Linked DNA regions of Homo sapiens: region 1 is linked to region 2. A link means that fine-mapping ties the variant in region 2 to the expression of a gene that starts in the linked region. Tissue or cell type: testis. Region 2 holds a variant in brackets; the other region holds the start of a gene. All regions are shown on one strand. Distances are between the middles of the regions.

What was found. PIP is the estimated chance that this variant, and not a neighbour inherited with it, causes the effect.
Region 1: TKTL1 starts here. The variant in region 2 is fine-mapped to the expression of TKTL1 in testis (GTEx, PIP 0.96).

Annotation. Positions count from the first base shown.
Region 1 is chrX:154,293,088-154,298,087 of GRCh38, reverse strand. It overlaps TKTL1 (transketolase like 1), which reads right to left and starts at 2,293. Exons shown (of 13, transcript NM_012253.4): 1 at 2,095-2,293. The coding sequence starts at 2,228. TEX28 (testis expressed 28) reads left to right here and starts at 2,964. Exons shown (of 5, transcript NM_001586.3): 1 at 2,964-3,058. RefSeq lists an enhancer at 2,601-3,102.
Region 2 is chrX:154,237,198-154,242,457 of GRCh38, reverse strand. It overlaps the pseudogene TEX28P3. Among named protein-coding and RNA genes, the nearest start is that of OPN1MW3, 18 kb to the left of the region's middle. The variant G/C (reference allele first, on the strand shown) is at 2,717.

The DNA of each region.
Region 1 (5,000 bases), 56 kb before region 2:
GCCTCACAAAACTTAATCAGGACAAGAAAATCTGAATAGACCTACAACTAACTAGTAAGGAGACTAAAGCAGTAATAAAAAAAACGCCCAATAAATAAAAGCCTCATTCGTAATTACTGCCAAACATTTAAAGAAAAATTAACAACAGTCTTCTTCAAACTCCTCAAAAAAAAATTTTTTTTTCTCTACAAGGTCTCGCTTCCTCTGTTCCCCAGGCCGTAGTGGCACAATCTTAGTTCACTGCAAACTCTGTCCCCCGCGTAGCTGGGACTACAGGCACGTGCCACCACGCCCAGCTAATTTTTGTAACATTCTGCACAGGGGATTGCCATCTTGCCCAGGCTGATCTCGAACTTTCTAGGCTCACACGATCCGCCTGCTTTGGCCTCTCAAAGTCCTGGGATTACAGGTTGGAGCCACCACGCCCGACCTCTCCAAAAAATTTAAGGTGGAACACTTTGAAACTCATCCTATGAAGCCAGCATTACACTTTTGATACCAAAAGCAAATACTACAACAAAACTATAGACCAGGCCAGGCGCGGTGGCTCACGCCTGTAATCCCAGCACTTTGGGAGGCCGAGGCGGGCGGATCACGAGGTCAGGAGATCGAGACCATCCTGGCTAACACGGGGAAACCCCGTCTCCACTAAAAAACAGAAAAAATTAGCCAGGCGTGGTGGCGGGCGCCTGCAGTCCCAGCTACTCCGGAGGCTGAGGCAGGAGAATGGCGTGAACCCAGGAGGCGGAGCTTGTAGTGAGCCAAAATCGTGCCACTGCACTCCAGCCTGGGCGACAGTGATACTTCGTCTCAAAACAAAAAAAGAAAAAAAAAACAAAAAAAACCTGTAGACCAATATCCCTTATACTGATGCAAAAACCATCAACCGCATACTAGCAAATTCAACAGCTCATTTTTGTTCCAATTCGTACTCAATTCCCGGTTTCTTTTACTTTATTTTTTTAGAGACAGGGTCTCACTGTTTGCCAAGCTGAATGCGAACTCCTGGGCTCAAGCGATCCTCCCTCCTCAGGCCCCACGTACTGAGACTGCAGGCGTGAGCCACCGCCCTCAGCTGGGTTTAACTTTTTTTTCTTTGAGGCACGGTCTCGCTCTTGCCCAGGCTGGAGTGCGGTGGCGCAATCTCAGTTCACTGTAACCTGAGCCTCTCAGCCTCCCGCGTAGCTGGGACTACAGGCACGTGCCACCACGCCCAGCTAATTTTTGTAACATTTTGTACAGAGGTTCGCCATCTTGCCCAGGCTGATCTCGAACTAGTTTCTAGGCTCACACGATCCGTCTGCCTCGGCCTCCCAAAGTGCTTGGGATTACAGGTGGCAGCCACTACACCCAGCCACTCCAAAAAATTTAAGATGGAACACTTTGAAACATCCTATGAAGCCAGCATTACACTTTGATACCAAAACCAAATACTACAATACAACTAGAGACCAATATCCCTCAAACTGATGCAAAAACCATCAACTGCATACCAGCAAACCCAACAGCACAAGCAAGCCTCCCGAATAGCTGGGAGTGCAGGTGTGCGCCCCCATGCCCGACTCATTTTTTATTTTTATTTTTTGGTAAGAGACGGGGTTTCGCCATGTTGCCCAGGCTGGAATTTTAATTGCTTTTTATCCTCACATCCTGGGTTAGAGTCGCTCATTCACCCTCGGGGATCCAGTACAACTGCTTACCAGGGAAGCCCTGCTCCCCGCTAAAATGAAAACCACAGCTAGCCCAATCTGATCCCAGTGACATTCTCCCGCCACCTCAGTCCAGTCTGGATCCTTTGTCTCCCAACTGGAGATCTTGGCGACCTCCAGAACTTTGGCCGTGGGTAAATTGAGGGGCGGGCTCCAGAACCCGCGGCTGACCAACCAACCGACCGACCCTTGGGTTGGCGGGAATAGTGCCTCGCTGCCATCTAGGGTGCTCGACCGGGCCCCAACAGCCCAAGACAGGGCATTACGACACAGCCCATTGTGCCTCTGAAGGCTCTCCCTTCACCACACGGCCTCATGGCCACCAGGCCTGAAGCCACCGGGCCCGTGGCCCTGCATGACCCAGACTTCAATGAGGAGAACTTACCCGGAGCTCGTGGAGCATGTGGCCCTGATGGAATGGATTCGCAAGCGGCTGGCCATATCTTGCAACACCTGCAAGGTGCCCCTGTCAGGTCTGGCCTCCTCCGGGAACTCAGCCCTCGCCTCAGCATCCGCCATTAGTCCAACCCCTTTGGAGTCTGAAGACCCACTCCTACGTCTCCGGCGTCTGAAGAGCGAATGGCGCCTGCGAGCTGCCCAGTGCGTTTATGTGATGTCGGTGCAGCTCCCTCCGCATGCCTCGTGCCACTCCCTCCACCTGCCGCTCCCTCCGCCGGCCGCTCCCTCCGCAAGCAAGTCAAGGGATCTGGAATGTTTGTGACTTGCATGTGCACAGTTATTGAAAATAGTCCCATTCTCATCTTCTCTCCTGCAATCTCAAAAGGGCTCCCTCCGCGCGGGTGCAGGGTCTTCTTTCTCTGCACAAAAAGTTCCGGCACTAGCTGTGTGGTGCCGCACGTGTCAGGGGGTGGTGCCGCACGTGTCAGGGGGTGGTGCCGCACGTGTCAGGGGGTGGTGCCGCACGTGTCAGGGGGTGGTGCCGCACGTGTCAGGGGGTGGTGCTGCACGTGGGACGTGCAGCTGCAACCGTAAAGGTGGGGGAGGGAGGGAGCTGCTGTGGCGCAATTTTTTGTTTCGTGATAAATGGTCACCCCTCCCCCACAACAGCCCAGGCTATGGCGGGCAGGGTGGGGGTGGGGCAGTGCTCAGGGTTCTGAGACGGTTGGCGCCTGCGCCAGCCTCCTTTCCTTTTTTAAAACATTCTATGAGGCAAGCCCCGTGTGATTGTTGAGGAGGAGTTAGCCCATTGCCAGCCTGTGACGTGACTGACTCGAATGAACCCTGGTAACTAGGGAATGTGCTCGCCCTGTGTCTGAAATGCCCCATGTCCGGTGGTGCCAGCACTAGCCCCCATGTCGGTCTCAGAGAACCTTCTCCCCACCTCTGAGGTGACCTACCGACCCAGAACTCGCATGGCTCCCAACGGCGCCAGCTCCACAGCGCCGTGCCCAAGTCCAGACATTCCGGATCCCAAGTGCTGTCTCTTGGTTCAAAAATGCCGAATTTCTACGTGAGCTCAAGTCAGGCCGCCTGGTCGCGCCACAGGCTGAATGCCCTTGGGTTCCCATGTTCTGCTGGGTTAAAGGGAATGTGTGTTTACATTTTTTTTTTTTTTGAGACGGAGTCTCGCCCTGTCGCCCAAGCTGGAGTGCAGTGGCTCGAACTTAGCTCGTTGCAACCTCTGCCTCCTGGCTTCAAGCGATTCTCCTGCCTCAGCCTCCTGAATAGCTGGGATTACAGGCATCCGCCACCACACCTGGCTAATTTTTTGTATTTTTAGTAGAGACGGGTTTTCACCATGTTGGCCAGGTTGGTCTCGAACTCCTGACCTCAGGTGATCTGCCCACCTCGGCCTCCCAAAGTGTTGGGATTACAGGTGTGAGCCACCATGCCAGGCGGTGGTGGGCACCTGTAATCCCAGCTAATGGGAATCTGAGGCAGGAGAATCACTTGAATCCGGGAAGCGGAGGTTGCAGTGAGCTGAGATGGCGCCACTGTACTCCAGCCTGGGCGACAGAGCAAGACTCCGTCTAAAAAAAAAAAAAAAGTGGCTGGGCACAGTGGCACACGCTCCTGTAATCCCAGCACTTTGGGAGGCCAAGGTGGGTGGATCACCTGAGGTCAGGAGTTCCTGACCAGCCTAACATGGAGACACCCCGTTTCTACTAAATACAAAAAAATTAGCTGGGTGTAGTGGCACATACCTGTACTCCCAGCTACTTGGGAGGCTGAGACAGGAGAATCGCTTGTACCTGGGAGGTCGAGGTTGCGGTGAGCCAAGATCGAGCCATTGCACTCCAGCCTGGGCAACAAGAGCAAAACTCTGTCTCAAGAAAAAAAATTTAACAGGCCACCTAATTGCGATTAAAAAAAAACCAAAACCCTGAATCTGTTTAGATTCCCACTTGCAGGGTATGTGACATCACCTTCTGCCACATTCTCGCCAGCCCTGGACATTGTTAGGCTTTTTAATTTTTGGCGTTCTGGTGGATGAGAAAATAGTATTTAATTGTTGCTTTTCGCTTACTATTCCCGGATCACCTTGCAATTACATGTTTTATTATACGTTTACTGTCTTTTGTTTTTCGTCGTCTGAGATGTCCGTGGCTACCCTTTAATGTCTTTATATTGGGTTATTTGCTCTTAGTTTACTGATTTGCAGTTCTTTATATATTGTGTTGATTAGCCCTTTATCTATCAGATATGTTTCAAGCCTTTTTTTTTCTTGTTTGCTTTTATTTATTTATTTTTTGAGATGGGGTCTCAGTCTGCCACCCTGGCTGGAGGGCAGTGGTGCGATCATGGCAGCCTCGACATCCCCGGGATCAAGCGATCCTCCCGTCTCAGCGTCCTGGGTAGCTGGGACTACAGGTGTGCACCACCACTCCAGGATAATTGTTGTATTAATTTTTTTTTTAATAGAGACGGGGTTTCGCCATGTTGCCCAGGCTGGTCTTGACCTCCTGAGCTCAAGAGATCCACCCACCTTGGCTTCCAAAGTGCTGGGATTACAGGCATGAGCCAGCACACCCAGCCCTTGTTTTTTTTTCTCCCCCTTTCTTTCTTTCTTTTTTGTTTTTGTTTTGATTAATCAAGTCCCATTTTTTTCTCCTCTTGGTTATTTGGATGTTATGTACATATGTAGCTTCTTTTCTAGTGATTACTTTTTTTTTTTTTTTTGAGACAATCTCACTCTTGTCAGTCAGGCTGGAGTGCAGTGGCGCAGTCTCGGCTCACTGCAACCTCCGTCTCCCCGGCTCAAGCAATTCTCCTGCCTCAGCCTCCCCAGTAGCTGGGATTACAGGTGTGTGCCACCATGCCCGGCTAATT
Region 2 (5,260 bases):
GTCCTGAAGGCCAGCATCTTCAAACCTGTGTTCTGTCTTCACATGACATTCTCGTCTGTGTGTGTCTAATGTCCTTCTGCCTCTCTCTCATACATGTGATTGCATTTAGGGCCACCAGGATAATCTAGGATAATCTTTGCATCTCAATACCCTTAAACTCACCACTTCTGGAAAGCCCCCTTTTTTGGTCATAGAAGGTAACATTCACAGTTTCCAAGGATTATGACACAGATATCTTTTGCGGAGGGGCTTTTTGTTTTTTTCTTTTTTAGACAGAGTCTCTCTCTGTCACCCAGGCTGGAGTGCAGTGGCACGATCTTGGCTCACTGCAACCTCCGCCTCCTGGGTTCAAGCAATTCTCCTGCCTCAGCCTCCCAAGTAGCTGGGACTACAAGCGCGTGCCACCACACCCAGCTAATTTTTTTGTATTTTTCATAGAGACGGGGTTTCACCCTGTTGCTCAGGGTGTTCTTGAACTCCTGAGCCCAGGTAATCTGCCCACCACAGCCTCACAAAGTGCTGGGGTTACAGATGTGAGCCACCGTGCCCAGCCTAGGGGGGCAATTTTAGCCTACCGTGCCCCACCTATTTGTAACAACCAGAAATGTCTGTCCAGAGATTGCCAAATGTCCCTTGTTTGGGGAGGGGGGGGCCGGCAAATTGCCCCTGGTTGAGAACCAGTATCCTAGCCCATGAGACTAGTGGGTGTGTGACCCTGCCTCTGACAATTAATGATGCTGAACCCCTTTTCATGTGCTTATCAGCCAATAAGTCTTTGGCTTGTTTTCAACTTGGATTGTCTTTTTATTGTTGAGTTGTCAGAGCTCTTTATATACTCCGGACCAGTCTTTGTCACTCCCCTACTTTTTCCTTTCTCGCAGCACTCACCGCCTAAACTGCTCTCCCTTGTGTAGGTATTCATTTGTGTTGTATTGTTCTCGTCAAAATATCAGCACATTCAGGTCGGCCACTGTGTCTGAGTGACTGCCCAAAGACATGTTGGCACATGATGGCTGTTCTGTGAGTACCTGTTTCATGGATCAGTCTGGATGCTGCTTTTCCTCCCTTCCTGAAGGGACCCAGCTCGCCCTCTGGGCTGCCTCCCTCCTCCATGTATGTCAGAACTCTATCTGCTGTGTCTTGGGAACATCAGGGCAGGGCCAGGAGGGCTGATTCTGGATTTAGGCCTGGCCCAGCCTCCTCTCTGCAAGGTATTTACTGAATGACCTTGGACGAGGTGCTTCAAGTTTGCAATCCTCAGTTTCCACATCTGTAACATGGAGGTAAAAATGATCCCACTATTGTTGGAACTGTTGTGAGAATTAATTAATACTTGTGTGTAAGCCCCAAGTAGATGCTGATGGAACTGAATTTACAATTCCTTTCTGCTTCCTATGTGCAAACTAAGTCCTTGAAAGATCGTAAAGAAAAATGGGGCCAGATGTGGTGGCTTATGGCTGTAATCCCAGTGCTTTGGGAGGTCGAGGCAGGAGGATTGCTTCAGCCCAGGAGTCTGAGACCAGCTTGGGTAACAAAGTGAGACCATATCTCTGCAAAAAATTTTAAAAGTATTAACCGGACTTGGTGGCACATGCCTGTAGTCCCTGCTACATGGGAGGCTGAGACAGGAGGATCGCTTGAGCCCGAGAGTTTTATGTTGCAGTGAACTATGATTGTGCCACTGTGCTCCAGCCTGGGTGATAGAGGACAGAGTGAGAACTTGTCTCAAAAAAAAAACAGAAAGAGAGAGAGAGAGAGAGGAGAGAGAGAGAGAGGAGAGAGAGAGAGAGAGAGAGGGAGAGAGAGAGAGAGAGAGAGAGAGAAAGAAAGAGAAAGAAAGAAAGAAAGAAAGAAAGAAAGTTGTTAATGGCTTTTTTTTTTTTTTGAGGTGGTGTCTTGCTCTGCTGCCCAGGCTGGAGGGAGTGCAGTGGCTTGATCTCAGCTCACTGCAACCTCTGCGTCCCGGATTCAAGTGATTCTCCTGTCTCAGCCTCCTGAGTAGCTGAGATTACAGGCATGCACCACCACGCCCAGCTAATTTTTGCATATTTTAGTAGAGACGGGGTTTCATCATGTTGGCCAGGCTGGTCTCCAACTCCTAATCTCAAATGATCCACCTGCCTTGGCCTCCCAAAGTGCTGTGATTACAGGCGTGAGCCACCACTCCCGGCCAATGACTCTTGATAAATTCATCAATGGAGCACCCTAGGTTGATGAGCTCAGGGATTTGGCCAAGATCTCGACCTGACCCTGCCTTCCTCTTCTTTCCCTGAGTCAATGCCTCCTGGGTTTGTCATTCCTGCTGCCCTCTCCTCTCCACAGCATTACAGTGCTCCACTACCCCTTACTCTGGTTGTCTGTCACTTTCTAGCAGCTTCTCTAGGACCGTCTCCACATACCTGATGGTCTTGTCCATCTCTCATTCATAAATTGCTGGTAGAGGTTCAGAGATAAGAAGCTACTCAAGTCAGAAAGCAGATTGGTGGTTACCAGGGACTGGGGTGATGGGGAATGGGGAGTGACTGCTAAATAGTATTTTTTCGAGGCAGTGATGAAAATGTTTTGGAACAATTTTTTTTTTTTTTTTGAGACGGAGTCTCGTTCTGTCACCCAGGCTGGAGTGCAGTGGCGTGATCTCGGCTCACTGCAAGCTCCGCCTCCCGGGTTCACGCCATTCTCCTGCCTCAGCCTCCCGAGTAGCTGGGACTACAGGCGC[G/C]CACCACCACGCCCGGCTAATTTTTGTATTTTTAGTAGAGACGGGGTTTCACCGTGTTGGCCAGGATGGTCTCGATCTCCTGACCTCGTGATCCGCCCGCCTCGGCCTCCCAAAGTGCTGGGATTACAGGCATGACTGCAGCCGGCCAATGTCTTGGAACTATTAATAGCCATGGTGGTTGCACAACACCACATGTGCTAAATGCCACTGAATTGTTCACCTTAAAATAATTCATTTTATGTTACATGAAATTTACCTCAATAAAAATTGAATAAAAAAGAAGCTACTCAGGTGCCGAGTAGGCAAAACTTTCACTCTTGCTTTGTATTTCTGGCTGTATCCACAAGTGGGCAGTCGTGAAATTTTCTTATAGCCTCCTGTCATATTGAAAACGCCCGGAAGTGAATATGCCAGGTCTCCATGTTTTTCTTTCCCTTCTGGACACGAGGTCCTTGGGGGCATCCAGACCCTAGCTCCTCTGTCCCAAGACTGTTCTGGTATGTTTCGCTTTCAGACGAGGCTTGGAGATAACAGGCTATGGTTCCTAGAGGCTTCAGTGTTGCTCTGTGACCTCTCAGCCCCAGGGATCCAGTCTCGGGCTGACTTTCCTCAAGGTATCTGCTTAGGGCTTTGTTGCAGGCTGGGGTCGTGTTAACTTGAAGGCACAAGAACTTCCATTTTTTCCCCGACTTCTCCTCCATGTCACAGCATCCTGCATCTTGGGATCTCTGAGGAGGTCTGACCTAAGGTCTGATCTGCTCTCTGAACTGGTTCCTCTCATCCCTATTGCGTTGAAGCAAAGCACAGACATTATATCAGTTCATCTGTAAATATTTCAGTGTGAACCTGAAATATGGATCATTTTGTTAACATAGCCTAAATACCATACCAAAAATGTTTTAAAACAAGTCCACAATGTTAAATATGCAGTCACTGTCACCTTATTGCCTCACACATGCCATCATTCCTTTTTATTTCTGAAGGAATTCTTTTTTTTTTTTTTTTTTGTGAGACAGAGCCTCACCCTGTCACCCAGGTTGGAGTGCAATGGTGAGATCTCGGCTCGCTGCAACCTCTGCCTCCCAGGTTCAAGCGATTCCCCTGCCTCAGCCTCCTCAGTAGCTGGGATTACAGGCATGTGCCACCACGCCCGGCTAGTTTTTGTATTTTTAGTAGAGACGGGGTTTCACCATGTTGGCCAGGCCGGTCTTGAACTCCTGACCTCGTGATCCGCCTGCCTCGGCCTCCCAAAGTGCTGGGATTACAGGCGTGAGCCACCACACCCGGCCCTGAAGGATATTTTTTGCTGGACATAGAATTCTAAGTTGGCACTTAATTTTTGGAAATAATAAGCATTTTGAACAAATCATTCCCTTCTGACTTCCATGGTTTCTGTTGAAAAGGCAGCTGCCAGTCTTCTTGTTGCTCCTCGGATCACAGTTTTGTTTTCCTCAGGCTCCTTTTAAGATCTTTTGTTTTTCTTTGTTGTTTAGTGGTTTTGCTATGATGATGTTTGGCGTGATTTTCTTTCTCTCTTCTTTTTTGTGCCGCTGACTCTCCCCTTGGTGTGATTTTCTTTGCATTCATCCTGCTTGGGCTTCGCATTGCTACTTGGGGTTATGGCTTGATGTCTTTTGTCAGTTTTGGACGTTTTCAGCCATTATATTTTCAAATAGTGACTCTGCCCTAGTCTCTCATTTTTCCCCTTCTAAGGCCCCAGTTACATGTATGTTCAACCTTTCCACTGTATCCCTACATCCTCTGGGTTCCTGTGTGAGCCGTCCTGGCGAATTTCCTCCTGCTTTCGCTTCTGTTTTGTTGGCTCTTCCCCCAGCTCCCCAGGGCCCCTTGCTTTGGCACATTTGCTCAGAGTGAGCTCATCCATCCTGGCCACATGCACCGATTGCACCTGGGCTATTGACCCCTCCTACAGCTGTTTCTCCGTCTCAGACTTTTCCTCCAAGTTGTGGGCCATGATTAGGCTCTAGCTCAATTTGCCAAAAGCAAATTCTCAGAAATGACCAAGAATATACTCTTTCCGGCTGGGCCCAATGGCTCACACCTGTAATCCCAGCACTTTGGGAGGCCGAGGCAGGCGGGTCACCTGAGGTCAGGAGTTGGAGACCAGCCTGGCCAACATGGTGAAACCCTGTCTCTACTAAAAATACAAAAAATTAGCCCGGCATGATGGCGCATACCTGTAGTCCCAGCTACTCAGGAGGCCGAGGCAGGAAAATCACTTGAACCCGGGAGGCGGAGGTTGCAGCAAGCCAAGATCGTGCCACTGCACTCCAGCCTGGGCAAACAGAAGGAGATCCGTCTCAAAAAAAAAAAACAACAACACTATTTTGAAAAAAACAATAAAGTTTAGAACACTTTGTGTTGGAGAGGGTGGTCTTAACACCTTCGGTCTGTCTTGAGGGTGTCTGGGTTGACTGGTCATCGTTTTGTGTTCATAAGAGCATTCTCCAGAGTTGTCCATTTGCTTTTGTGACTGTAGGAGGTGGAGAGAGGGGGGTCCTTGACCAAGGAAGAGAAGGGAGC